2 separate regions of the Homo sapiens genome follow, and region 2 is linked to region 1. Evidence: fine-mapped expression QTL. Tissue or cell type: whole blood. Region 1 holds a variant in brackets; the other region holds the start of a gene. All regions are shown on one strand. Distances are from middle to middle.

Evidence for each region. PIP is the estimated chance that this variant, and not a neighbour inherited with it, causes the effect.
Region 2: ADA starts here. The variant in region 1 is fine-mapped to the expression of ADA in whole blood (INTERVAL, PIP above 0.99).

The regions. Positions count from the first base shown.
Region 1 is chr20:44,672,909-44,675,661 of GRCh38, forward strand. No RefSeq gene overlaps it. Among named protein-coding and RNA genes, the nearest start is that of LINC01260, 2.5 kb to the left of the region's middle. The variant C/T (reference allele first, on the strand shown) is at 1,482.
Region 2 is chr20:44,650,468-44,653,220 of GRCh38, forward strand. It overlaps ADA (adenosine deaminase), which reads right to left and starts at 1,232. Exons shown (of 12, transcript NM_000022.4): 1 at 1,108-1,232. The coding sequence starts at 1,140. RefSeq lists enhancers at 681-790, 1,021-2,004 and a silencer at 1,041-1,430.

The DNA of each region.
Region 1 (2,753 bases):
GGTAAGTCCATCCCGTTTAATCGATATGGGGGCTACCCACTCCACATTATCTTCTTTTCAAGGGCCTGTTTCCCTCGCCCCCATAACTGTTGTGGGTATTGATGGCCAAGCTTCAAAACCCCTTAAAACTCCCCCACTCTGGTGCCAACTTGGACAACGTTCTTTTATGCACTCTTTTTCAGTTATCCCCACCTGCCCAGCTTCCTTATTAGGCTGAGACATTTTAACCAAATTATCTGCTTCCCTGATTATTCCTGTACTACAGCCACATCTCATTGCCCCCTTCTTCCCAACCCAAAGCCTCCTTTGGGTCTTCCTCTCATATCCCCCGACCTTAACCCACAAATATGGGACACCTCCACTCCCTCCCTGGCAACCAATCACATGCCCATTACTATCCCATTAAAACCTAATCACGCTTACCCCACTCAATGCCAGTATCACATCCCACAACAGGCTTTAAGGGGATTAAATCCTGTTATCACTTGCCTGCTACAGCATGGGCTTCTAAAACCTATAAACTCTCCTTACAATTCTCCCATTTTACCTGTTCAAAAACCGGACAAGTCTTACAGGTTAGTTCAGGATCTGTGCCTTATCAACCAAATTGTTTTGCCTATCCACCCTGTGGTGCCCAACCCGTACGCTCTTTTGTCCTCAATATCTTCCTCCACAACTCACTATTCCATTCTTGATCTTTAAAATGCTTTTTTTCACTATTCTCCTACACCCCTTGTCCCAGCCTCTCTTTGCTTTTACCTGGACCGATCCTGACACCCATCAGTCCCAGCAGCTTACCTGGGCTGTACTGCCGCAAGGCTTCAGGGCCAGCCCTCATTACTTCAGCCAAGCTCTTTCTTATGATTTACTTTCTTTCCACCCCTCTGCTTCTTGCCTTATTCAATATATTGATGACCTTCTACTTTGTAGCCCCTCCTTTGAATCTTCTCAACAAGACACCCTCCTGCTCCTTCAACATTTATTCTCCAAGGGATATTGGGTATCCCTGTCCAAAGCTCAAATTTCTTCTCCATCCATTACCTACCTCAGCATAATTCTTCATAACAACACATGCGCTCTCCCTGCGGATCGTGTCCGACTGATCTCTCAAACCCCAGGCCCTTCTACAAAACAACAACTCCTTTACTTCCTGGGCGTGGTTGGATACTTTTGTCTTTGGATACCTGGTTTTGCCATCCTAACAAAACCATTGTATAAACTCACAAAAGGAAACCTAGCTGACTCCATAGATTCTCAATCCTTTCCCCACTCCTCTTTCTGTTCCTTGAAGACAGTTTTAGAGACTGCTCCCACACTAGCTCTCCCTGGCTCATCTCAACCCTTTTCATTACACGCAGCCGAAGTGTAGGGCTGTGCAGTTGGAATTCGTACACAAGGACTGGGACCGCACCCTATAGGCTTTTTGTCCAAACAACTTGACCTTACTGTTTTAGGCTGGCTATCATGTCTCCATGCGGTGG[C/T]CGCTGCTGCCCTAATACTTTTGGAGGCCCTCAAAATCACAAACTATGCTCAACTCACTCTCTACAGTTCTTATAACTTCCAAAATCTATTTTCTTCCTCACACCTGACACATATACTGTCTGCTCCCCGGCTCCTTCAGCTGTACTCACTCTTTGTTGAGTCTCCCACAGTTACCATTGTTCCTGGCCCGGACTTCAATCCAGCCTCCCACATTATTCCTGATACCACACGTGACCCCCATGACTGTATCTCTATGATACACCTGACATTCACTCTATTTCCCCACATTTCCTTCTTTCCTGTTCCTCACCCTGATCACACCTGGTATATTGATGGCAGTTCCACTAGGCCTAATCGCCACACACCAGCAAAGGCAGGCTATGCTATAGTATCTTCCACATCTATCATTGAGGCTACCACTCTGCCCACCTCCACTACCTCTCAGCAAGCTGAACTCATTGCCTTAACTCGAGCCCTCACTCTTGCAAAGGAACTACGCACTACGCATCAATATTTATACTGACTCTAAATATGCCTTCCATATCCTGCACCACCATGGTGTTAAATGGGCTGAAAGAGGTTTCCTCACTACGCAAGGGTCCTCCATCATTATTGCCTCTTTAATAAAAACTCTTCTCAAGGCCGCTTTACTTCCAAAGGAAACTGGAGTCATACACTGCAAGGGCCACCAAAAGGCATCAGATCCCATCGTTCAGGGCAACGCTTATGCTGATAAGGTAGCTAAAGAAAGAGCTAGCATTCCAACTTCTGTCCCTCACAGACAGTTTTTCTCCTCCTCATGGGTCACTCCCACCTACTCTCCTGCTGAAACTTCCACCTATCAATATCTTCCCACACAAGGCAAATGGTTCTTGGACCAAGAAAAATATCTCCTTCCAGCCTCACAGGCCCATTCTATTCTGTCATCATTTCATAACCTCTTCCATGTAGGTTACAAGCCGCTAGCCCGACTCTTAGAACCTCTCATTTCCTTTCCATCATGGAAATCTATCCTCAAGGAAATCACTTCTCAGTGTTCCATCTGCTATTCTACTACTCCTCAGGGATTGTTCAGGCCCCCTCCCTTCCCTACACATCCAGCTTGGGGATTTGCCCCTGCCCAGGACTGGCAAATTGACTTTACTCACATGTCCCGAGTCAGGAAACTAAAATACCTCTTGGTCTAGGTAGACACTTTCACTGGATGGGTAGAGGCCTTTCCCACAGGGTCTGAGAAGGCCATCATGGTCATTTCTTCCCTTCTGTCAGAC
Region 2 (2,753 bases), 22 kb before region 1:
CCCAGGCTGAAGTGCAGTGGCACCATCACACCTCACTGCAGCCTCAACCTCCTGGGCTCAAGCGATCCTCCCGCCTCAGCCTCCTGAGTAGCTGGGACTACGGGAGTGCACCACCACACACACTTCCCCTAACTTTTTTTATTTTTTGGAGAGACGGGGTCTAGTTTTGTTGTCCAGGCTAGTCTCAAACTCCTGGACTCAAATGATCCTCCCGCCTCAGCCTCACAAAGTGCTGGGATTACAGGCGTGAGCCAACCTCCTGGGCCACTCACACCTATTTCTTAGAAGGGTAAGTTGAGGCTGACTGCAGCTGACTCCTTCCCCAACCACTCTCACACCCTACTGGCTGACTCACCCTGCTTGGCAGACTCCTGGGCCCCTCCTCTCGGACTCTGCGACAGGCCAAGGGGGTCCAGACCCTCCCTGACCCCAACAGTCCCAAGACGCCACAGCTGGTGGGCGGAGAAACAAGGGGATTCTCCCCTGGGGCCAGTGGCCATGGCTTGGCCTCGAGTGAACCCTGCTAGGGCCCCAAACCCAGGGCCTACCTAGCTCCTGTTCTTCCCGCGCGGGGGAAGGGGGGTGCTCTGCTCCCCTCCCTCCCCTTTCTGGCAGGGCTCACGGTTCTTCCCCGGGGCGCATCCACAAACCTGAGCTCCTTGGCGCTCACCACCATAACGCTGGCGTACAAAGCTGCTTCCATTCACTGAGCACTCAGTAGGCGCCGGGCACAGCACTAGGTGCCTATCCGGCGTAGACATCGGGCCTGATCATACAGCTGAGCTTCAGAGACCTCAAGTCCCTGCCCAGGCCCACACAGCGCTCAGCGGTGCTAGGATGCCCACTTGACAGACAGCGAAACTGAGACCCAGAGGGGTCAAGTCAGGGGCAGAAGCAGACTCTGGAGGCCTCCGGGTTCTGGACCTTCTCTGCCCCATTGTCCCTGATTAGCCCGCAAGCAAGCCACGGCCTAAGCCGAAGGAAGAACTCGCCTGCAGGAGCCCCCGTTCGTTCCCAGGGTTTGGACGCCCCGGGCTGGGCCCCGCTAAGCCCCTCGGGCCGCCCAGGCGCCGGACCCCCGTCCCCGGAGCCCCCGCGCGCGCTCACTTTGGGCTTGTCGAAGGCGGGCGTCTGGGCCATGGTGCCCTCGTGCGCCCCGGCGCTGCTCCCTCCGCCGCCGCTCGGTGGGTCTCTGCCGGCTCGGTGGCCGCTCGGCTTTCCCTGGGGCCAGCGGTGGCCGCGGCCGGCCACGCTCTTCTTAACGGGCCGGGCCCCGCCTCCCGCCCCGCCCGCCGCCGTTCCCGGGGCCCGCCCTCTCGCCGGAGCCCCCGCCCCGCCCGCCGGCCTGGATCGCGCATTTCCTGGAATTCTGGACCCGGCGTCCTCGCCCGCCGACCCGAAAACTACGGCCCCGCGGCGCCCGACCGGACCCACCTGTGGGCGCGCGCTCCAGCCGCCTCGCTGGGCGCTGCCTTCCCCCCGGCTCCTCCAGCAACTTTCAAGCGTCCCCCTGCAGTCTGGGCGCTGCTGTGCGCCAGGCCCAAGCTAGAAGCGGGGACCCCGGGAGCATCGCAAGCCTCGAGCGGCGTGCCTTCCACCGGATAGACGGACGCTCGTCGCAGAAACACACACCATAATTGTATAGTTAAGGAACTTTCGAGGGGGGCCAGCCGTGGCCTGCAGAACCTGCAGGAGTTCATCAGGGGTGGGTGGGGGTGGAGAGGACATTCTACGTGAGAGACTCCAGGGAGCTGGGAGTGAAAGGAGGCGAGGAAGGCTGGAGCTCGGAGGGAGGGAGAACACAGACAGTCCCCTCCTGGGCATTCACCTTTAAGAAACCCGCCCAGGCGCAGCCAGAGACCTGTGCAGAATGTTCACACCAGCGCTATTCCGAATAACAGGAACATTGGAAACACCCTCAAATGCCCCTCCACGGGCGAGTGGGCAAATAAACCGGAATATTCACACCATGAAACGTTAGACAGCAGTGAAACGGAATGAACTTCAGCCAGACAACAACAGAAACAATGTCTCAGAAACAATGTTGAGTGAAAAAAACTAAGTTGCGGAAAACTGCATACAATGGTGCAACTTTTAGAATGTGTAAAAGCAAAACCAAAAGTATGTATGTTTAGACACATGCATCGGTGGAAAAAATGTAAAGCAAGGGAAAGATGAGCATAGATACGAGAAGAGTGGTTATCTCAGGTGAAAGGGAAGGAGCCGGGAGGAGGTAAGGACGGAGGGAAATAACACGCGGGTACAGGTTATTTATTTATTTATTTATTTATTTATTTATTTATTTATTTATTTACTGAGACGGAGTTTCGCTCTTTCGCGGAGGCTGCAGTGAAGTGGCGCGATCTGGGCTCACTGCAACCTCTGCCCCTCTGGCCCGCCTCCTCCCCACCGCTCCCCCGCACCCCCAGCGTTTCAAGCGATTTTCCTGTCTCAGCCTCCCGAGTAGCTGGGATTATAGGCGCCCACAACCACGCCTGGCTAATTTTTGTTTTTTGTTTTTTTGTTTTTGTTTTTGTTTTTTTGAGATGGACTCTTGCTCTGTCGCCCAGGCTGGAGTGCAGTGGCGAAATCTCGGCTCACTGCAACCTCCACCTCCTGGATTTTAAGCAGTTCTCGGCCTCAGCGTCCCGAGTAGCTGGGATTACAGGCGCGTGGCACCGTGCCCTGCTAAGTTTTGGATTTGTAGTAGAGACGGGGTTTCACCATGTTGGCCAGGCTGGTCTCGAACACCT